Homo sapiens: one gene and its partner. The protein of the gene in region 1 interacts with the protein of each later gene in a pairwise test. Each region holds a gene or a part of one and is shown on either strand. Other genes may lie near its edges. The genes, in order: GOLGA3 and SRR.

What was found.
Region 2: the proteins of GOLGA3 (region 1) and SRR interact in a two-hybrid assay, tested with the Homo sapiens proteins (one study listed by BioGRID).

The regions. Positions count from the first base shown.
Region 1 is NC_000012.12:132,780,862-132,792,430, reverse strand, and holds part of GOLGA3 (golgin subfamily A member 3), read left to right. Parts: intron 1-1,137; coding exon 1,138-1,215; intron 1,216-3,140; coding exon 3,141-3,404; intron 3,405-5,643; coding exon 5,644-5,738; intron 5,739-5,875; coding exon 5,876-6,092; intron 6,093-8,123; coding exon 8,124-8,267; coding exon of another isoform or gene 8,268-8,405; exon of another isoform or gene 8,406-8,563; intron 8,564-9,937; coding exon 9,938-10,135; intron 10,136-11,516; coding exon 11,517-11,569. UniProt on the Homo sapiens protein: Golgi auto-antigen; probably involved in maintaining Golgi structure.
Region 2 is NC_000017.11:2,311,098-2,322,666, reverse strand, and holds part of SRR (serine racemase), read right to left. Parts: intron 7,111-11,569; 5' UTR 7,107-7,110; coding exon 6,939-7,106; intron 4,798-6,938; coding exon 4,671-4,797; intron 3,842-4,670; coding exon 3,738-3,841; intron 1,362-3,737; coding exon 1,242-1,361; intron 1,126-1,241; coding exon 1,051-1,125; intron 272-1,050; exon of another isoform or gene 1-271. UniProt on the Homo sapiens protein: Catalyzes the synthesis of D-serine from L-serine. D-serine is a key coagonist with glutamate at NMDA receptors. Has dehydratase activity towards both L-serine and D-serine.

The DNA of each region.
Region 1 (11,569 bases):
CCGGGTTCTGTAAACTGTCACTGTAACAGCCCTGCTCGCTCGCCTGTGCTGCAAGAGCATTGCTGAGCAGCTGTGACTGACGTGCAGCCTGTGAGCTGCAGTCTTTTCCCATCAGGCATCTCCAAGAAAGGCTTGCCGAGCCCTGGGCTGCAGTGTCCCCTGGCCTCATCCCCTCTCCCACCTCCCTGCCACTCACTGTGCCTTCATGCTGTCAGTGGTGAGGAGGGAGAGCCCAGGCCTTAGGAACCACCAGTTCCCGTCAGAACACAAGTGCTTCTTCCTATAACATCTGTGCAGATGTGTGCCCTCCTGGAGCCATCAGTGTAATGTCTGTGTAGTTGCATCCCCCTCCTGGAGCCCTCAGTGTAACATCTGTGTAGATGTGTCCCCCTGCTGTAGCCCTCAGTGTAATATTCATGCACATGCATCCCCCTCTTGGAGCCCTCAGTGTAACATCTGTGCAGACACATTCCCCTCCTATAGTCCTCAGTGTAACAACTCTGCAGATGTGTCCTTTCCTGGAGCCCTCAGTGTAACATCTCTGCAGATGTGTCCCCTTCTGGAGCCCTCAGTGTAACAACTCTGCAGATGTGTCCTTTCCTGGAGCTCTCAGTGTAACATCGCTGCAGATGTGGCCCCTTCTGGAGCCCTCAGTGTAACATCTCTGCAGATGTGGCCCCTCCTGGAGCCCTCAGTGTAACATCTGTGTAGATGTGTCCCCCTGCTGTAGCCCTCAGTGTAATATTCATGCACATGCATCCCCCTCTTGGAGCCCTCAGTGTAACATCTGTGCAGACACATTCCCCTCCTATAGTCCTCAGTGTAACAACTCTGCAGATGTGTCCTTTCCTGGAGCCCTCAGTGTAACATCGCTGCAGATGTGGCCCCTTCTGGAGCCCTCAGTGTAACATCGCTGCAGATGTGGCCCCTTCTGGAGCCCTCAGTGAAACATCTCTGCAGATGTGTCCTTTCCTGGAGCCCTCAGTGTAACATCTGTGAGGATGTGTCCCCTCCTGGAGCTCTCTGTAACATTTGTGCAGATGTGTTCCCCTCCTGGAGGCTTCAGTGTAACATCTGTGCAGACAGATTCCCCTCCTGGAGCCGTCAGTGTAATGTCTGTGCACATGTCTCCCACAGGTGGAACACCTGCAGCAGGAGACTGCTGCTCTGAAAAAGCAAATGCAAAAAATAAAGGAACAGTTTCTCCAACAAAAGGTAAAAATCTGTTGTTGATTTCTTCACTTGAAACAAGCATATGAACAGAGTTTTCTGTGGTTTAATTGCTTAGCAATTCCAATGTCATTGAAGTTGAGAAGAAGGTAACATCTTGAGTTCTCTTTAAATTTTTTTTTTTTTTTTTTTTTTTTTTTTTTTTTTTTTGAGACGGAGTCTCTCTCTGTCAGCCAGGCTGGAGTGCAGTGACGCGATCTTGGCTCACTGCAAGCTCTGCCTCCCGGGTTCAAGCTATTCTCCTGCCTCAGCCTCCCGAGTAGCTGCGACTACAGGCGCCCTCCACCACGTCCGGCTAATTTTTTGTTTTTTGTATTTTGAGATGGGGTTTCTCCGTGTTAGCCAGGATGGTCTCAATCTCCTGACCTCAGGTGATCCACCCTCCTCGGCCTCCCAAAGTGCTGGGATTACAGGTATGAGTCACCGCGCCCGGCCCTCTTTAACTTTTTTTAAAGGTACTTAATCTGCAAAGTCAAGACACACTTCCACAGTGGGGTGGGGGTCTTGGCCCCTCAGATCTCCAGGGGCGGCTGTCACTGGAGCGCCTGTCAGCATACCCTGTTGTGCTCACTCCAGGGAGCTGTGTGTTGTGCAGTGTTGTTAACACACAGGTTGGGTTTGCCATTTAAAATGTCTTTGAAAAATGCACATAGAGTTCCAGCATTGAAACAAATTTTGGTTATCCAAAAAGACACGGAATATAAATTTTGTGTCAGTGAAGCCAGTACCTCCTGTTGGATTTTATGGGATCTGAGCAAGGGTGACCCCGAAGCTATATTGTGAGTGCTGCTGTGTTTTATTTCTGAGCGAGGGTGACCCCTGAAGCAGCGTTGTGAGCGCTGCTGTATTTTATTTTATTTTATTTTTGAGATGAAGTCTCGCTCTGTACCCCAGGCTGGAGGGCAGTGGTGCGATCTCGGCTCACTGCAAGCTCCGCCTCCCAGGTTCACGCCATTCTCTTGCCTCAGCCTCCTGAGTAGCTGGGACTACAGGCACCGGCCACCACGCCCGACTAATTTTTTTTTGCATTTTTAGTAGAGACGGGGTTTCACCGTGTTAGCCAGGATGGTCTCAATCTCCTGACCTCGTGATCCGCCCACCTTGGCCTCCCAAAGTGCTGGGATTACAGGCATGAGCCACCACGCCCGGCCTGTAATTTAGTTTTTTTGAGACAGAGTCTGGCTGTGTCGCCCGGGCTGGAGTGCAGTAGTGCTGTCTCCGCTCACTGCAACCTCCAACTGCCAGGTTCAAATGATTCTCATGCCTCAGCCTCGTGAGTAGCTGGGACTACAAGCATGCACCACCACGCCTGGCTAGTTTTTTGTATTTTTAGTAGAGATGGGGTTTTCACCTTGTTGGCCAGGCTGGTTGAACTCCTGACCTCAGGTGATCAGCCAGCTCGGGCTCCCAGAGTGCTGGGATTACAAGTGTGAGCCACCGCGCCCGGCCTGCTGTATTTTATTTCTGAGAGTGCTGGGATTACAAGTGTGAGCCACCGCGCCCGGCCTGCTGTATTTTATTTCTGAGCAAGGGCGGCCCCTGAAGCGGTGTCGTGAGTCCTGCTTTGCTTTATTACTGAGCCACAAGCAAGGGGATTACCTGTTGGAAGCAAAGCCGTGCAACTGAAGTCAGGAGAGAGCCAGACTCCTTGGAATAGAGGAGACGTCTATGAGGCCGGTGTGACTGCCTTGTGCACCACGCAGTCTCTCAACAGGCAGTGATGTCACCTGTGGATAAACAGTGGTGTGTCTCAGTCGATGGAGTCTTAGATTTGATGAAATGTATCTTTACCTCAAAAAAGTTATGCCCCCGATAAGTGGTAAACATTTTTGTTGAAGCCAGCTTGACCCCCAGGTACGCCCCCCACGCCCCGCCGCCCAGCGTCCGCTCACAGCCTCTGTCTTTGGCAGGTGATGGTGGAGGCCTACCGGCGCGACGCCACCTCCAAAGACCAGCTCATCAGTGAGCTGAAAGCCACCAGGAAGAGGCTGGACTCGGAGCTGAAGGAGCTGCGGCAGGAGCTGATGCAAGTGCACGGGGAGAAGCGGACTGCCGAGGCGGAGCTCTCGCGCCTGCACAGAGAGGTGGCCCAGGTCCGTCAGCACATGGCGGACCTTGAAGGGCATCTCCAGTCGGCGCAGAAGGAGCGAGACGAGATGGAAACACACTTGCAGGTCTGTCCGTGTCGGGTTGACTCATTTGATGGGGAGGATTCGGCCAAAGTGCTTGTCGGGAGGGTGGGGCCTGTGTCTGGGGCGGGGCCTGTGTCTGGGGCGGGGTCTGTCTGGGTCGGGGCCTGTGTCTGGGGTGGGGCCAAGGTGGGAGAGGCTTTTGGAAGAACAGCTGGGAACAAGGCCCACCTGGAGCATAGGTCCCAGAGGGGCAGTCCGGTGAGGCCTGATAAGTCCAGGTGGTGATGGTGCATGAAGGGAGGGAGTGAGGAGGCCCCGTGAGGCACCCAGCTTCTCCCCATTGCCATGGGCTCCCGGGATCTAGCATGTGAGAGGACAGCGGCTGTCATGCAGAAAGCAAGGGTGAGTGTTTTGTGGAGACCCCACGTCAGGGCAGGGCGTCGGGGCCCGGGGACCCTGGGAGTCCCTCGTGGCTGAGTGCGGAGCTGGGACTGACCAGAGCTAGTCATGTTCCTGTGGAAGCTGAGCCTGGGCTGGCTTCTGCACACAGTGGGTGTCCGAGATGCTGGTGACAGTTTCTCGGCTGCAGGTAGCAGAGCAGGTGAGGGGTAGAGGCGGGGGACGGAGGCCGCAGTCCAGGATCCTGTCCAGACATCCAGGCTGAGGAACCGGGAGGTGAGACGAGAAATCAGGAGAGCAACAGTAAATTTGGGGAGAGTCGTCTGATGGCACGTTAGACCAAGTGCTACGTTTTGCTTATGAAGTTTCTGAAGTTGCCGGAGAGGACCGAGCCAAGGTCCCAGCAGGCAGATTGGTCAGCATGTCTGGCTCATTAGGAGCCAGGCTGAGGCCTGTGAGTAGGCGGTGTGGCCGGCACCATCATTGTTGGAAAGTGAGGGCTGATGGATTAGCGCTGGTGCCGGGGTGGGGAGGTGGGCCAAGGGGAGGGCCGGCTCTTTGGACTGTAGGAGGCTTGGAGGACTCAGCAGTGCGGGCAGAGCACGTTCGGACCCCACAGCTGCAGGCCTGGGCTGGTTGTGGGGACTCGCCTCGCACACAGGAGCTGGGGAAAGGCTGCGAGGGCAGGAGCAGGTCGGGGACGCGGCCCTCAGTGTTCACAGTTGATCCTGAGGAGGGCATCCGGGGGGGGTCCAGGGAAGGGTCCTGGGGTCTCAGGAAGGGTCCTGGGGTCTCGGGAAGGGGTCCCGGGGTCTCCGGGGAGGGGTCCCGGGGTCTCCGGGGAGGGGTCCCGGGGTCTCCGGGGAGGGGTCCCGTGGTCTCCGGGGAGGGGTCCCGTGGTCTCCGGGGAGGGGTCCCGGGGTCTCCGGGGAGGGGTCCCGGGGTCTCCGGGGAGGGGTCCCGGGGTCTCCGGGGAGGGGTCCCGGGGTCTCCGGGGAGGGGTCCCGGGGTCTCCGGGGAGGGGTCCCGTGGTCTCCGGGGAGGGGTCCCGGGGTCTCCGGGGAAGGGTCCCAGGGGTTCTGGGGAGGGGTCCCGGGGTCTCAGGAAGGGTCCTGGGGGCTCTGGGGGAGGGGTCTGGGGACTGTGGGGAGGGGATCCAGGGGCTTGTGGGGAGGGTTCCCGGGGGCTCTTGGGGAGGGGTCCTGGGGTTTCCTAGGAGGGGTCTGGATCCTTGAGGAGGGGTCCTAGGCCTTGGGGAGGGTTCCTGGGGCCCTGGGGAGGGGTCCTGGGTCCTGAGGGTTTGGAGGAGAGGTCCTGGGTCCACAGGCTTTCCTATGAACCAGTCATGTCCTGTTGTGCCTCTGATGCTCTGGACAGTGTTTGGAAACGCTTGTTGGTCTCAGTAATGAGTGGTTTGTGGCCGGGTGCAGTGGCTCACACCTGTAATCCCAGCACTTTGGGAGGCCGAGGCAGGTGGATCACGAGGTCAGGAGTTCAAGACTAGCCTGACCAATATGGTGAAACCCTGTCTCTACTAAAAATACAAAAATTAGCTGGGCATGGTGGCGGGCACCTGTAGTCCCAGCCACTCGGGAGGCTGAGGCAGGAGAATCACTTGAACCTGGGAGGCGGAGGTTGCAGTGAGCTGAGATCACGCCCCTGCACTCCAGCCTGGGTGACAGAGTGAGACTCCATCTCAATAAAAAAAAAAAAGAGTGGTTTGTAAGAAGGCAGACGTCTCTCTCAGGATTTTTCTCAAGGCCCAAGTCCTCCAGGGCGAGCCTGAGCAGTGCCTTTGGTGGGGGTGATGGGCTGGAGCCAGGAAGGGGAGACAGGCTGGGGGTGGCAGTGCCGCTCCTCACGCCCTCCTTCCCTTCCACAGTCGTTGCAGTTCGATAAGGAGCAGATGGTCGCGGTCACAGAGGCCAATGAGGCGCTGAAGAAACAAATCGAAGAGTTGCAGCAAGAGGCCCGGAAGTAAGTCTGCATGTGCCCGGGGGAGGTGCGGGGGCCAGGTGGGAGGTGCGGGGGCCGGGGGGGAGGCGAACCAGAATGCCAGACGGTCACATCGGGATAATTCAGCTTCCTCCTGTGTCTCCCTCATGACACCCCAGGGCCATCACGGAACAGAAGCAGAAGATGAGGCGGCTGGGCTCAGACTTGACCAGCGCCCAGAAGGAGATGAAGACCAAACATAAGGCCTACGAGAACGCCGTGGGCATCCTCAGCCGCCGCCTGCAGGAGGCCCTCGCGGCCAAGGAGGCTGCGGACGCGGAGCTGGGCCAGCTCCGAGCCCAGGGTGGCAGCAGTGACAGCAGCCTGGCTCTACATGTAGGTAACACCGTGCCATCCCCGGCCAGGGTCACCAGCCCCTCAGTGCAGGGAAGGGCTCTCCATCAGCAGTTGTCCCCTAAAGCCTAGCGGGGCCGAGCTCGCGTGGGAGGTGGCAACTCTCTAAACTCCCGCTCATCTTCCAGGTTACCAGGAACCCACAGTGACTGAGCATTGCCTCGCGTCTCCCTCATGAACCCCACATGGCCTGTGGCCTGTGGCGTTCACCTGATTTTCCTCAAGAAATCTCCTTGGCTCAGAGAAGTTCAGCTGCTCCCTTGGGGCAGAGGGAGGGCCTGCCCTGGTCCGCTCGCGTTCCAGCTGCCTCTGCGCCTCCTCGCATCTCAGGAGGAAAAGCAGCCTCCGCACTCACTGAGAAGCAGGAGTGAGGGCATGGGGTCAGCGATTGACAGGGTTCAGGGAGCGTTTAGAGGTAGCCATGCTGCGGTGGCCCAGAACAAGCGGGTGCCCTTTCTGGAGGGCTCTGAGCAGAGCCTTCCGTGGAGGCCGTGGCCCTCCGTGCTCTGTCACCTTTCGTGGTAGGCATAACATTCTACCTGAGTGAGTTCATCCGCATTTTATTTATTATTCTCCAATTCACGTCCTTGCACTGACAACTTAGTATTTCTTCTTATATGTGGTTTGTTTCTATCTCCTGTCCACTTAAGAATTTATGGGTAGGAAGAGACTGTATCATAACGTGGGGTTTTCTTGTCAAATAAACTCGGCCGGGCACGGTGGCTCACACCTATAATCCCAGCGCTTTGGGAGGCTGAGGCAGGAGGATCGCTTGAGCACAGGAGTTTGAGACCAGCCTGGGCAACATAATTAGACCCTGTATTTACAAATAATACAAAAATAAAACCCAGGCATGGTAGCACGTGCCTGTGGACACAGATGCTTGAGACACTGAGGTGGGAGGATCGCCTCAGCCTGGGAGGTGAGGCTGAAACTGCAGTGAGTCATGATTTTGCTGCTGCACTCCAGCCCGGGCGATAGAGACTCTGTGTCTGAAATTCAATAAATAAATCAAGTGCTTCCTCTCACCTGGTTGCTTTGTAAAATGTTGGGGAGATTGATTCAGTTGCCATTTTCTTTGGGCTCACTAAGGGCTGGGGTGGGGAGGTCGCAAAGGCCGGGCAGAGCTGGCCCCTCGCCACGCTGTTGCAGCTGAGGAATAGCACAGCTGCGAGCCGATGTCTTGTGTCCGTCCGGGCTTCACCCCTCGCAAGTGGTGACTTTTGGCAAATTTCTCACCTTTTTGATCCTCAGCAAAATGAGGCCAAATTGAGGTGAATGAGAACCTTCTCATGTAAGGGTTAAGTTAGGTGGTACTGGAACATGCTTGGCAAGGGCCTGGTACCATCGAGGCAGCAAGTGGGCGGGGTGTGAGAGCACACCTGTGCCTGCATGTATCCGTGCATGTGTGAGGTGTGAGCATGTGTGTGTGCAGCGTGTGGAGTGTTTGTGTGCATGGTGTGTGGGATGTGAGCATATGTGTGCATGCAGTGTGGGGTGTATGTGTGCATGCAGTGTGAGGTGTGAGCACATGTGCATGTGTGGTGTGGGGTGTGAACACGTGGGGTGTGAGCATGTGCGTGTGGGGTGTGAGCACGTGTGTGTGTGGTGTGTGGGATGTGAACATGTGCACGTGGTGTGTGTTACATGAGTGTGTGTATGTGATGTGTGGTGCGTGAGCATGTGTGTGGTATTTATTACAACTGGTGCTGCTTGCTTGCCACAGATGGTGATTTATAGCCATTATCTGCAGGTCAGATTTTCTTCTGTATTTTTGAAGCATTGAACTGAAGAGATGATTTTGTTTGTCCCAACTATCCCCGTGTGTCATCGTGTGCATGCTGTGGTCGGTTAATTCAACTTCTTTAACAAAAAGGAAGGTTGTGAGACTGTGTCAGACAGCTGGTGTCTGGTGTGTGCAGCCACACAGCCTCATGCCTGCCGGCACCACAGGAAGTGAGGGGGGTCAGGGCCTGTCCCATGACCAAGCGCCCGTTCCATCTTGGCCCTTAGGAAAGGATCCAGGCCCTGGAGGCGGAGCTGCAGGCTGTCAGTCATAGCAAGACGCTGCTGGAAAAGGAACTGCAGGAGGTCATAGCGCTGACCAGCCAGGAGCTGGAGGAGTCCCGGGAGAAGGTGCTGGAGCTGGAGGACGAGGTGAGGCCTGGCCATCTGCTGTGGCGGCAGCGTGGGGCAGGTCACGTGAGCCCTGGACATGCCGCCACGCGTGAGACCCGAAGAACAAAACTTCACCGTGTGCCCAGCGTTGCTACTTTTGGTGTTGCCACCTTCTGACCGTCGGCCTCTGGCTCTGTGGTGGGGCAGGCCCTGATTCCAGCCCTCTGGGGAGGATCACTGTACAGCCTCTTTGGTGGAATGGTTACAGAATTCATAGTGGAACCCTTCTCAGTTCAAATGCTTTGGTTGCAAATAAGAAACCCAACTTCGCCAGGCGAGTGGCTCATGCCTGTAATCCCAGCACTTTGGGAGGCTGAGGTGGGCGGATCATGAGGTTAGGAGCTCGAGACCAGCCTGGCCGACATGGTGAAACCCCATCTCTACTAAAAATACAAAAATTAGCCGGGTGTGGTGGCGGGTGCCTGTAGTCCCAGTTACTTGGGTGGCTGAGGCAGGTAAACCGCTTGAACCCAGGAGCGGAGGTTGCAGTGAGCCAAGATCGCGCCACTGCACTCCAGGCTGGGCGACAGAGTGAGACTCCGTCTCAAAAAAAGAAAAACGTCAGATATCTCAGGTTCAGAGACAGTTCTCGCTTCAGCGCTGCTGGTGGCAGCTCAGTGTCCCGGCGCCCCCCACTCCCCAGCCCCTCCCTGTGGAGCTCCGTCACAGTAGGGCCGCCTGTTCCACTCTCTGGCTGTGTCCTGCCCTGAAGTGGTTTTGCTCATGCCCACCCTGCTGAGTGGCCTAGCCAGGGCTCAGTGCCTGGACAGACTTCTCCAGAAGCCCATGGCCCCAGGAGAAGGCTGGGCTCTTGGCCATGGGGAGGAATGAGAGGGGCCTGGGGAAGCAACTGACCATGACCACGACAGCCTTCAGATCATGAAGCAAGCACGGTCCTGTGGTGTCCATCGCAGGGTTGTGTGGTGTCCATTGTTCTTTGTTTTTGTTGTCTTGAGACAGAGTCTCACTCTGTCATTCAGGCTGGAGTGCACAATCTTGGCTCACCACAGCCTCCACTTCCCAGGTTCAAGTGATTTTCCCGCCTCATTCTCCTGAGTAGCTGGAACTACAGGTGATCGCCACCACACCTGGATAATTTCTGTAGTTTTGGTAGAGACAGGGTTTCATCATGTTGGCTAGGCTGGTCTCAAACCCCTGACCTCCCAAAGTGCTGGGATTACAGGTGTGAGTCACTGCGTCCAGCCCATTGCTGTGTTTTAGTTTTCGATGTTTCTTTTCTTTTCTTTTTCTTTTTTTTTTTTTTTTTGAGACAGAGTCTCGCTGTGTTGCCCAGGCTGGAGTGCAGGGGCACAATCTCAGCTCACTGCAACCTCCACCTCCTGGGTTCAAGCGATCCTTCTGCCTCAGCCTCCTGAGTAGCTGGGACTAAAGGCATGTGCCACGATAGTGGCTAATTTTTGTATTTTCAGTAGGGACGGGGTTTCACCATGTTGGCCAGGCTGGTCTCAAACTCCTGACCTCAGGTGATCCCCCTGCCTCGGCCTCCCAATGTGCTGTGATTACAGGCGTGAGCCTCTGCGCCTGGCCTAAGTTTTCGCTGTTTCTTGTTGAAAACTCACCTGTTTCTGGGGTATGTGAACTCCACTCACCAGTGCAGGTAATTTTACAGTGACATTGGTATGTTTCAGCTTCAAGAATCCAGAGGCTTTAGGAAGAAGATAAAACGCCTTGAGGAGTCAAACAAGAAGTTGGCTCTTGAATTAGAGCACGAGAAAGGGAAGCTTACGGGCCTCGGTCAGTCCAACGCAGCTCTGCGGGAACACAACAGCATCCTAGAAACAGCTTTGGCCAAGAGGGAGGCAGACCTAGTCCAGTTGAACCTTCAGGTATTCAAACTCGTCAAACTCACGCCAGCAACGGTGTGAGAGTTGGTGGGGCTGTGCGCACTCCGAGAATCTCATCCAGATTCAGTCACCTGTGCTGACTCCTAGCCCACCCGGCCTGCAGCCGAGAGAACAGGCTCAGGAGTCCGGGTGACCCACGGCCCTGGGTCCCCAGCTGTTGGTGCAGGGCTGGGCTCTCCGAGGGGAGGAACAGGCTCAGGGGTCTGGGTGACCCACAGCCCTGAGTCCCCAGCTGTTGGTGCAGGGCTGGGCTCTCTGAGGTGAGGCTGGAGCCCCTGCGTGTGCTCAGTTCACCTGTTTAGTTGAGGGGCAGACCTGCTTAGTCGGGGGGCAGACCTGCTTAGTTGGGGGGCAGACCTGCTTAGTTGAGGGGTAGACCTTCCATGTGGGTGTGGCTGAGTTCCAGTCCCAGACGGTGACATTGTTTGTAGGGGGCACTTAACAAGAGGTTCACACAATTCAGAACTGGGACTTGAACCCTGACCTGGTTCTCACTCAGCTACTTAGTCTCCACAGCCTCTCTGAATTGAGGACTAGGCTGGGCATTTCAGGGAAATCCTGGGGGCCAAATCGAGCTGCTGGTGTTGACTATCCCATCTTAGTTCCATATTTTGCCCTAGTTCCCACCACTTCTGTTCTTTTTGTACCCGGCTGCAGCCCCTGATTTGTATGTAGTTTTTGAGTTCCCAGCCACCATGTTCCATTTTTTTGTTGTTGTTGTTGTTAGTAATACGGAGTCTCACTCTGTCTCTCAGGCTGGAGTGCAGTGGCACGATCGCGGCTCCCTGCCTCCCGGGTTCAAGCGATTCTCCTGCCTCAGCCTCTGGTATAGCTGGGACTACAGGCGTGCACCACCGCGCCCAGCTAATTTTTCATATTTTTAGTAGAGACAAGGTTTCACTGTGTTAGCCAGGATGGTCTCGATTTTCTGACTGTCATCCGCCTGCCTCGGCCTCCCAAAGTGCTGGGATTACAGGTGTGAGCCACCGCGCCCGGCCCATTCTTTTTTTTTTGAGACAGGGTCTGGCTCTTGCCCGGAGTGGAGGGCAGTGCGGTGGAGGGCACTGCGGTGGTACCATCATAGCTCACTGCATCCTCAACCTCCTGGGCTCCAGCGATCCTCCTGCCCTGGCCTCTGGAGCCGTGGGGCCCACAGGCGTGCCACGTTCTTGAGTGCGGCCCTGTGATCATGCTCCCGCAACCTAGGATTCTGTTTTTGTCACAGATTCTTCAGCAGTGAAGTTCCCTCTACCTCCCTGGCGTGTGCCTGTGATGTGGCGTGTGTCACGTTGCCTGCTGTAGCAGCCTTGTGTGTTTGTAATTCGACGTCCTTCCTTATCTGTCCTCCTGCAATCTGATCTAGGTGCAGGCAGTTTTGCAGCGCAAAGAAGAGGAGGATCGCCAGATGAAGCATCT
Region 2 (11,569 bases), on another chromosome or scaffold:
TAGCCAGGCATGGTGGCAGGCACCTGTAGTCCCAGCTACTCGGGAGGCAGAGGCAGGAGAATGGCGTGAACCTGGGAGGTGGAGCTTGCAGTGAGCCAAGATCGTGCCACTGCACTCCAGCCTGGGTGACAGAGTGAGACTCCGTCTCAAAAAAAAAAAGAAAATAGGCACAATAAGTAATACATTTCTGCCCAAGTAAGAGCCTTCCCTTTTGTGGATGTAATGAAAATATCTTCAAGCACTTTATAAATAAATTATATGTCTGATACTAGCCTTCCATTGCCTGGATCACATCTGATTGTCCTGGTAATTTGAGAAAAGGGTAGCCCCTTGGTATGGATAGTAGCTTGATGACATGGAATTCAGGGAAAAGACTATGATGGTGTCACTTGTAACTGCTTTTGTGCTGTAAAATTGTCATGGATTAAGAAGAGAGTTGGCTGGGTGCGGTGGCTCACACCTGTAATCCTAGCACTTTGGGAGGCCAAAGTAAGGACTGCTTGAGCCCAGGAGTTCCAGACCAACCTGGCCAACACAGCAAGACCCCATCTCTTAAAAAAAATAAAAATATTAGAAATAATAAATAGGCCGGGCGCAGTGGCTCACGCCTGTAATCCCAACACTTTGGGAGGCCAAGGCGGGTGGATCGCAAGGTCAGGAGTTCAAGACCAGCCTGACCAACATGGTGAAACCCTGTCTCTACTAAAAAAAATACAAAAAAATTAGCGGGGTGTGGTGGCTCATGCCTGTAATCCCAGCTACTCAGGAGGCTGAGACAGGAGAATCGCTTGAACCCGGGAGGTGGAGGCTGCAGTGGGCCAGGATCGTGCCACTGCACTCCAGCCTGGGCAACAGCGAGAATCTGTCTCAAAAAATAATAATAATAGTAAATAGAGTAGTGAGGCAGAGATGGGCCTTCATCTCAAGTCCCAAAGGAATAAGGGGAAGGAATGGTAATGTGTGCAGAATGTTGAGCACGTGTATACAGAACATTTAGGATGTAAAGTAAATCCTCTGCTTGAAGCAGGGAATCCTCCAGAAGCTGCTCACCTTAACTGTAATTGCTATTCCAGCAAGCATTCCTCCTCCACCTACAGGTACCACCAGTGCATCCACCAAAGGAACCTTTAGTGAAAATATAAACTGTAAGCAGTTTTATATTTAATGTATACATATAAAATAATTGAATATAGCCCAACAGCTTTACCAGTAGCTAAACAGGAAGAACTCAGCTATTTTACCTGGTTCAGCACTTCCAGGGCAATTGTCCCTTGTCCAGCTATCACTGCAGGCTCCTGGTTGGGATGTACCATGATGCCTTCTGTTTCTTCTGTAACTCTTTTTGCAACATTTTCTCTGGACTGAAAGTACATTAATTTAGCTTAATTGATTTGTATTTAATAGAGTCCCCAACAAGTTCCATTTGGTCATTCAGCATTTTATTGACCATCTACTTTTTTCACACTTTGTTCAGGTACTAGAGATATATATGTTAATAAAATATCCCTGCCCTCAAGCACGTTATATTGTATGGTAGAGATGGATGAAGTAAATATATGGTATGTCTAAGTGCAATGGAGTAAAATGAAGGAATTTATTTCATATAGGGTAGCCAAGAAGAGCCTCTAGTAAAGTGACATTTTAAAAGATCTGAACAAGTGCTGTGGATGTCTAGAATATTCCAGAGAGGGGGTAACAGTGCAAAGACTACAAAGTAGGAGTGCTTGGCCTTTCTGAGGAACAGCTAAAAAGGTTAGTATGGCTGGCACAGAGTGGGCAAGAGAAATAATAGAAGATGAGGTCAAGGCTGGGTGCAGTGGCTGACACCTATAATCCCAGCACTCTGGGAGGCCAAGGTGGGCAGATCACTTCAGGTCAGGAGTTCAAGACCAGCCTTGCCAACACGGCAAAACCCCGTCTCTACTAAAAATACAAAAATTAGCCAGATGTGGTGGCACGCGCCTGTAATCCCAGCTACTCTGGTGGCTGAGGCATGAGAATCTCTTGAACCCAGGAAGCGGAGGCTGCAGGGAGCTGAGAAGAAACTACCGCACTCCAGCCTGGGTTGGACAGAGTGAGACCCTGTCTCAAAATAAATAAAAAGAAGATGAGGGACCAGGCACGGTGGCTCACACTTGTAATCCCAGCACTTTGGGAGGCCAAGGCGGGCAGATCACGAGGTCAGGAGTTCGAGACCAGCCTGGCCAATATGGTGAAACCCTGTCTGTACTAAAGAATCAAAAATTAGCTGGGCATGGTGGCACGCGCCTGTAGTCCCAGCTACTCGGGAGGCTGAGGCAGAAGAATCGCTTGAACCCAGGAGGCGGAGGTTGCAGTGAGCCGAGATTGTGCCGCTGCACTCCAGCCTGGGAGACGGGGAGATTCTGTCTAAAAAAAAAAAAAAAAAAAAAAAAAGATGAGAGATGAGGTCAGAAAGATAGGAATGTTTGAGTTTATCCAGGGATTAGATGATTGCAAGAACTCTCGTTTCCACCGTGTATGAGATGGGAAACCAACAGAGGATTTAGACTTGAAAAGAGACAAGTTCTGGCCAGGCGTGGTGGCTCACGCCTGTAATCCCAGCACTTTGGGAGGCCGAGGTGGGTGGATCACGAGGTCAGGAGATCGAGACCATCCTGGCTAACACAGTGAAACCCCGTCTCTACTAAAAATAGAAAAAATTAGCTGGGCATGGTGGCAGGCGCCTGTAGTCCCAGCTACTCGGGAGGCTGAGGCAAGAGAATCGCTGGAACCCAGGAGGCGGGGCTTGCAGTGAGCCAAGATGGCACCACTGCACTCCAGCTTGGGCGACAGAGCAAGACTCCGCCTCAAAAAAAAAAAAAAAGAAGAGACAAGTTCTGACTTTATTAAATGGAGACCTCTGGTTGCTCAAAAAAGCCTGTAGTGTGGCAAGGGTGGATGCAGAGAGACCAGTTTGGCTACTGAATTGAATATAGGTGAGAATTGATGTTGGTTTGAATCAGAGTGCTAACGGTAGACACAGAAGCAGTTGGGTTATGGAAATATGTTGAAAGCAGACTGAGATTTGGATGTGGGGTATGAGAGGGTTATCAGAGAGGATTCCTGGCTGTGTGCAGTGGGTCATGCCTGTGATCCCAGCATTTTGGGAGGCCAAGGTGGGAGGACTGCTTGAATCCAGGAGTTTGAGACCAGCCTGGGCAACAGTGAGACCCTGTCTACAAAAAATAAAGGAATTAGGTGTGGTGGCATGCACCTGTAGTCCTAGCTACTCAACAGGCTGAGGCAGAAGGATCCCACAACATAGAAAGAGTCCATCTTTAACAACAACAACAAAAAATTTTCAAAAAAAGATGACTCCAACTTTTTTTTGAGTAACTAGAAGAATAAAAATTGCCATTTACTAAGATGAGGAAGACTGGAAGGGAAGCAATATAGGGAAGTAAGATCAGGAGTTTGGTTTTAGCTGTAGTTTGAGATGCCTTTTAAGACATCAAGTGGGAAAGTTAGGTAGCTGTTATATAAAAGTTGGCTGTTAAAGGGAGAGAAGTTGGAGTTGGTGTTGTTAGACCATAGGTAATAATTTAAGAAATGAGACTAATGAGATCTTGTGAGTGTAGATAGAGAAAAGGTTGAGCATGCTAACAGAAATAAAGGGGAAACCACAAAGGAGGCTGAGAAGGAGCAGCCAGTAAGGTAGAAAGAGCCATTGGTCAAATGAAAGCTGTTAAGGTGGTACCAAGCACTGCTCTCCTTACCTCATCACTAGGTTCACAGTATACAATTGACGCTCCGTAGGCTTGTATTGCAAGTTTTTTACAGTCTGGAGCTGTCTGGGGCACCACAATATAAGCAGGAATTCCTGGGAGAGGAAAACGAGAGGAAAAAGTCAGGAGAATTTAGAATAGAAACTTATGTGGCCAGGCACGGTGGGTCACACCTGTAATCCCAGCACTTTGGGAGGCTGAGGCAGGCGGATCACAAGGTCAGGAAATTGAGACCATCCTGGCTAACACGGTGAAACCCTGTCTTTACTAAAAATACAAAAAAAAAAAAAAAAAAAAAAAATAGCCAGGCATGGTGGCAGGCTCCTGTAGTCCCAGGCTGAGGCAGGACAATGGTGTGAACCCGGGAGGTGGAGCTTGCAGTGAGCCGAGATCCTGCCACTGCATTCCAGCCTGGGCGACAGTGCAAGACTCCGTCTCAAAAAAAAAAAAAAAAAAGAAAGAAACATGTTCAGCCAGGTGTGGTGGCTCACGCCTGTAATCCTAGGACTTTGGGAGGCCAAGGCGGGTGGATTGCTTGAGCCCAGGAGTTCGAGACCAGCCTGGGCAACATGGTGAAATTAGTATTTTGTATTTGTAAAATAGAAAAAATTAGCCAGGCGTGGTGGTGCGCACCTGTAGTCCCAGCTACTCAGGAGGCTGAGGCAGGAGAATCGCTTGAACCCGGCAGGTGGAGGTTACAGTGAGCCGAGATCGCGTCACCGCTCTCCAGCCTGGGTGACAGCAAGATTCTGTCTTCAAAAAAACAAAACAAACAAAAAAAAAACTTATGTTCATATTGCTTGCAATCAGATAGAGATTTCTTTGGAAAGTTACTTCCCACAGCTATCATCACTCTCACTGAAATTAAGGGCACTTTTCCACTCCTTTCTGAAGATCTACCCAGTACCTTGAGAAATCAAGTACCTTCCAATTTGGCAGCATAGGTGAGAGCCTGGCCATGGTTTCCACTGCTGTGAGTAACAACAGCTTTCGGCTTCCTTTCTAAAGCATCAGGAACCAAGCTTCTGACGGCATTGAGAGCACCACGAATCTGAAAAAGAGGGATGGTGAATTCACATATTTGATTAAAACATTGTTTTGGAAAGCAAGGAGCTTTTCTAGATTTTCTATCCTTAACATGCACATCCAATCTGTCACCAAATCTTATCGATTTACCTCTTAAATATCTCATGTGCATCTTTATTTTTTATTTTTTTGAGATGGAGTCTCCGTTATCCCGGCTGGAGTGCAGTGCCACGATCTCGGCTTACTGCAACGTCCGCCTCCCCACACTGCGTCTACCCCCAGGGCCGGGTTCAAGTGATTTTCCTGCCTCAGCCTCCCAAGTAGCTGGGATTATAGGCACCTGCCACCATGCCCGGCTAAATTTTTTTTTTTTATTTTTTTAGACCTAGTCTCGCTCTGTTGTAGCCCGGGCTGCAGTGCAGTGGCGCGATCTCGGCTCACTGCAAGCTCCGCCTCCCGGGTTCACGCCATTCTCCTGCCTCAGCTTCTCGAGTAGCCGGGTCTGCAGGCGCCCGCCACCACGCCCGGCTAATTTTTTTGTATTTTTAGTAGCGACGGGGTTTCCCCGTGTTAGCCAGGATGGTCTCGATCTTTTGACCTCGTTATCCGCCTGCCTCAGCCTCCCAAAGTGCTGGGATTACAGGCGTGAGCCACCGCACCCGGCCTTTTTTTTTTTTTTTTTTTTTTCCCCCGAGATGGAGTCTTCCTCTATCACCCATGGTGGAGTGCAATGGCGTGATCTCAACTCACTGCAACCTCTGCCTTCTGGGTTCAAGCAATTCTCCTGCCTCAGCCTCCCAAGCAGCTGGGATTACAGGTGCCTGGCACCAAGTCCCGCTCATTTTGTATTTTTAGTAGAAAGTGTTTCACCAAGGCTGGGTGCGGTGACTCATGCCAGTAATCCCAGCACTTTGGGAGGCAGAGGCGGGCGGATCACAAGGTCAGATCAAGAACATCCTGGCTAACACGGTGAAACCCTGTCTCTACTAAAAATTCAAAAAAAAAAAAAAAAAAATTAGCTGGGCGTGGTGGCAGGCGCCTGTAGTCCCAGGTAATCGGGTGGCTGAGGCAGGAGAATGGCGTGAACCTGGGAGGTGGAGCTTACAGTGAGCCGAGATCGTGCCACTGCACTCCAGCCTGGGGGACAGAGTGAGACTCCGTCTCAAAACAAAACAAAACAAAACAAAAAAGCGTTTCATCATGTTGGTCAGGCTGGTGTCGAACTCCTGACCTCAGGTGATCCACCTGCCTCAGCCTCCCAAAGTGCTGGGATTACAAGTGTGAACCACTGCGCCTGTCATATATTTGTATTTTTTGTAGACAGAGTTTTGCCGTGTGGCCCAGGCTTAGATCTTTTATATTGATAATGTATCCATGTGTAGCAAGTTGATACAGTGAATGCTTAAACTTGGGTCATATACAGAGTGATAACACTTTCCAATTTGCCTGCAACAGTTCAGGTGTCTGTTTAGATATTTCAGGTTGCTTCTTTCAGTCCCAAACATGTCCTAGTTTGGATAATAAATTATGTCTTAGTTTGGACAGTAAGTGATGGTATATATAATAAAGTCATGCTTTGCTTAAGGATGGGGATATGTTTCGAGAAATGCATGATTTGGCAATTTCATCATCTTGCATGCACCATAGAGTGTACTTATACAAATCCAGCTGTTACAGCCTATTACTCCTAGGCTGCAAACCCTGTATAGCATGTTACTGTACTGAATACTGTAGGCAGCTATAACACAATGAGAAGTATTTCTGTATCTAAACACAGAAATCGTACAGTAAATGTGTGGTATAACCTTATGGGACCAAGGACCACCATCATATAGGTGGTCTGTCATTGACTGAAACGTTATGTGGCATATGACTGTATTTTATGTATATATTATATATATGCACATACATATATATAAAAATTACTCGGATAAGTTATATATATTATCCTAATTATAAGGATTTATGACTGTGTAAAAGTTGCTTATCAACACTATGATGCTAGGTAAAACAAGGACTTGAAAGGAAAATTTCTGTAACCTTTTTTCCAGCTGTATAAAGGCATTAATTTACTTCTGCCTATCTCATTGGGTGGTCAGGAGAATCAAACTGATATGTGAAAGGGTGTGAAAACATACATGATACACTGAGAAAAAGGATTGTTACCTTAAAAGATCCTGTTTTCTGGAAGAGTTCACATTTGAAGAAAAGATTGCGCCCTGTTAGTTGATTCAAAATGGAGCTTGTTAGCACTGGTGTGAGGTGGATAGAATCTCGAATGTTGATATGAGCTTTTTCAACATCAGCAAAGGAGATGCAATACTGAGCACACATGGTTCTGAAACCCAGGAATAAGAAAGGGGTCAAAGCAAAGTCTGAGACAGTATGTTTATTGAAGAGATTTTGAAAATACGTAACAGAATAGACCTGGGGCCTGTGGTGTCATGTGGAAATTCTCCATTATTGGAGTGTCAGAATTTCCCTAAAAGAGAGTTGACTTAAAAGCTGAACGAAGTTTTTCTGGTGAAGCTTTGAGGGAAGTAACTGATGGTGATTACAGAAGGCTAAAGCCCACTCCCCACCCACACCACCCATCTCTTGGCACTGTTGGCACTGCCACTGGTCTCCATCTTCCTTTTTTTTTTTTTTTTTTTGAGACGGAGTCTCGCTCTGTAGCCCAGGCTGGAGTGCAGTGGCACAATCTCGGCTCACTGCAACCTCCGCCTCCCGGGTCAAGCAATTCTCCTGCCTCAGCCTCCCGAGTAGCTGGGATTACAGGAATGTGCCATCGTGCCCAGCTAATTTTTATATTTTTAGTAGACACGGGGTTTCACCATGTTGTCCAGGCTGGTCTTGAACTTCTGACCTCGTGATCCGCCTGCCTCGGCCTCCCAAAGTGCTGGGATTACAGGTGTAAGCCACCGTGCCCAGCTCCACCTTTCTTTTAATCATCGTTGTGAAGCTACTTGAATGAATTGGATTCAATTTTTATATTATTTTTAATTTATAAATTTAAATTTTTAATTTTTAATAAAAATTTAACAAATTATTTGATAAAGAAAAAATAGCTAGACTATTCCATTTAAATAACTATGTTCATTTTCTTTATTTCCCTCTGCATTTTCTTTTTTTTTGTTTTTTGAGATGGTGTTTCACTCCTGTTGTCCCGGCTGGAGTGCACTGGTGCAGTCCTGGCTCACCACAACCTCCACATCCCAGGTTCAAGCGATTCTCCTGCTTCAGCCTCCCGAGTAGCTGAGATTACAGGCATGCACCACCATGCCCAGCTAATTTTTTTTTTTTTTTTTTTTTGAGACAGAGTCTCGCTCTGTCACCCAGGCTGGAGTGCAGTGGCGCGATCTCGGCTCACTGCAAGCTCCGCCTCCCGGGTTCACGCCATTCTCCTGCCTCAGCCTCCCTGGTAGCTGGGACTACAGGCACCTGCCACCATGCCTGGCTAATTTTTTGTATTTTTAGTAAAGACGGGGTTTCACCGTGTTAGCCAGGATAGTCTCAATCTCCTGACCTCGTGATCCGCCTGCCTCGGCCTCCCAAAGTGCTGGGATTACAGGCGTGAGCCACCAAACCCGGCCAATTTTGTATTTTTAATAGAGACGGGGTTTCTCCATGTTGTGCAGGCTGGTCTCGAACTCCCGACCTCAGGTGATCCGCCTGCCTCAGACTCCCAAAGTGCTGGGATTATAGGCGTGAGTCACTGCGCCCGGCTCCTTCTGCATTCTCAATATACATTATGTAACAGTTAAAGCAAACATTTTATTTGCTCCTACATTTGACTCAGTTTCTTTACAATTTTCATAATTTTCAATAACTACATTAAGCTTCCACTTTCCACTGTGTCTATTGTAGCAGTTAAATATGAAGTTTCTCTATTTTTCCTTATTACAAAAGAATCTATATTCATTAGAAAACTGAGTTAATCTGAAAATACAGAGATACAAAAAGAACATGAAAATAGCCACGAAACCTTCCTACCTAAAGACAGTTGCTATCCAGTGGTTTACCTTTCCAGGCCCAACTACATATGCAGACAAAACTCTTTGGTAGGTTTGGTAACTTCTTTTTTTGTCAGACAGTATTATGAATATCAATGAATCTCATAGGTGAGTACATTTATCAACATTTTTTTTTTGTTGTTTTTTTGAGATGGAGTTTCACTGTCACCCAGACTGAAGTGCAGTGGCATGACTGTGGCTCACTGCAACCTCTGCCTCCTGGGTTCAAGCAATTCTCCTGCCTCAACCTCCTGAGTTGCTGGCATTACAGGCGCCCACCACCACACCCAGCTAATTTTTATATTTTTCGTAGAGGCGGGGTTTCACCATGTTGGCCAGGCTGGTCTTGAACTCCTGATCTTAGGTGATCCGCCCGCCTCGGCCTCCCAAAGTGCTGGTATTACAGGCGTGAGCCACCACGCCCGGCCCATTTATCCAACTTTTTTTTTTTTTTTGAGAGAGTCTTGCTCTGCCGCCAGGCTGGAGTGCGGTGGCGCCATCTCAGCTCACTGCAACCTCTGCCTCCCAGGTTCAAGCGATTCTCCTGCCCTAGCCTCCCTAGTAGCTGGGATTACAGGCGCCTGCCACCACACCCAGCTAATTTTTTTATTTTTAGTGGAGACAGGGTTTCACCATGTTGGCCAGGCTAGTCTCGAACTCCTGACTTCAGGCAATCCACCTGGCTCAGCCTCCCAAAGTGCTGGGATTACAGGCGTGAGCCACTGCGCCCGGCTTTATCCAACTTTTAAAATGACTTAATAGTACTTCTTTTACAAAAATACAATAATTTAGCTGGGGGCAGTGACACACACTGGTAGTCCCGGCTACTTGGGAGGCTAAGGCGGGAGGCTTGCTTGAGCCCGGGAGTGTGTTATTATCACGTCTATGAATAGCCACTGTACTGTGGCCTGGGCAACATAAGCAGGACCCTATCTCTTGAAAAAGAAAAAATAATAATTTTAAGTTTACATAGCTCAAATGAACATTTGGATTTCCTTTTGTTGTTGTTGGCTGTAAGAATGATGTAATGAATAGCCTTGTTGCAAGATTTTTGTGTACCTCCGTCAGTCCTTAGGGTAGATTTCACCAAATGGTATTTTGTATCAAAAGGCATACATATTTCTAAGAAATCTGATACCCACTGCCAAACTGATCTCCAGAAGGGTCCTATATTACATCAATTTGTACTCCCAACAACAGTTTTGATGGAATGATGCCTCTTTTCCTTCATCCGTCCTATATCATTTTTATGTCAATTTAGTTATGTCTAGTAGTTGTTGTTTCTTTGAGACGGAGTCTTGCTCTGTTGCCCAGGCTGGAGTGCAGTGGTGGGATCTTGGCTCACTGCAACCTCCACCTCCCAGGTTCAAGTGATTCTCCTGCCTCAGCCTCCCGAGTAGCTGGGACTACCGGTGTGTGCCACCACGCCAGGCTAATTTTTTGTATTTTTAGTAGAGACAGGGTTTCACTGTGTTAGCCAGGATGGTCTCGATCTCCTGACTTCGTGATCCACCTGCCTCAGACTCCCAAAGTGCTGAGATTACAGGTGTGAGCCACTGTGCCTGGCAATGTCTAGTAGTTTTAATTTACATTAATTACTAGTGATTGAACATTTTTTTGTGTATCTTGGCCACTTGTTCTTTTCTCAGTCTTTTTTTTTTTTTTTTAGATAAGGTCTCACTCTGTTGTCCAGGCTGGTGTACAGTGGCTCAATTATGGCTCCCTGCAGCTTCAAACTCTTGAGCTCAAGTGATCTTCCCGCCTCAGCCTCCCAAGTACCTGGGACTATGACTGTGCACCACCATACCCAGCTAATTTTTTAAATTTTTATTTTAGTAGAGAGGAAGTCTTGCTGTGTTGCCCAGGCTGGTCTCAAACCCCTGAGCTCAAGTGATCCTTCCGCCTTGGCCTTCCAAAGTGCTGGGATTACAGGCATGAGGCACCACACCCAGCCTTCTTAACACACCATTTACTGACAGAATCCTTTTCCTCTGAAATGCTCTATTTATCAAAAATTAAATTTCTATGAATGGTTGGGGCTATTGTATTTTGTTCCATTGGCCAGACTGCCAATGTCTTTTCCTATTATATACTGTATTAATAAATTCTCCCTTGATTGCTCTAAAATTCATTGGCTTTTCTCACATATCAATTCTTTCAGGTGAACTAGAATTACTTTATCAAAGTTGCCAGAAATTCCATTGTAAAGATGTATAAATGAATTGGAGGCATTATTTATTTACTGAGACGGGGTCTCTTGTCGTCCAGGCTGGAGTGCATTGGCATGATCTCAGCTCACTGCAACCTCTGCCTCCCAGGCTCAGGCAATCCTCTCACCTCAGCCTCCTGAGTAGCTGGGACCACAGGTGCACTGTGCCACCACAAATACAAAAAACGTCTGTATTTTTTGTAGAGACAAGGTTTTGCCATGTTGCCCAGGCTGGTCTTGACCTTCTGAGCTCAAGTGATCCACCCACCTTGGCCTCCCAAAGTGCTGGGATTACAGGCGTGAGCCACCATGACGGGCCCGAAAACTCAATATTTTTTAATGTCAATTATGCCCCCTCGGCTGGGCACAGTGGCAGGAGGATTGCTTAAACCCAGGAGTTCAAGGCTGCAGTGAGTTATTGTACCACTGCAAGAGCAAGACCCTGTCTCTTAAAAACAAAAAAACAAGAGAACAAAAAATAGTTGGCTGGGCGTGGTGGCTCTTGCCTGTAATCCCAGCACTTTTGGAGGCCAAAGCAAGTGGATCACTTGAGATCAGGAGTTCAGGAGTTTGAG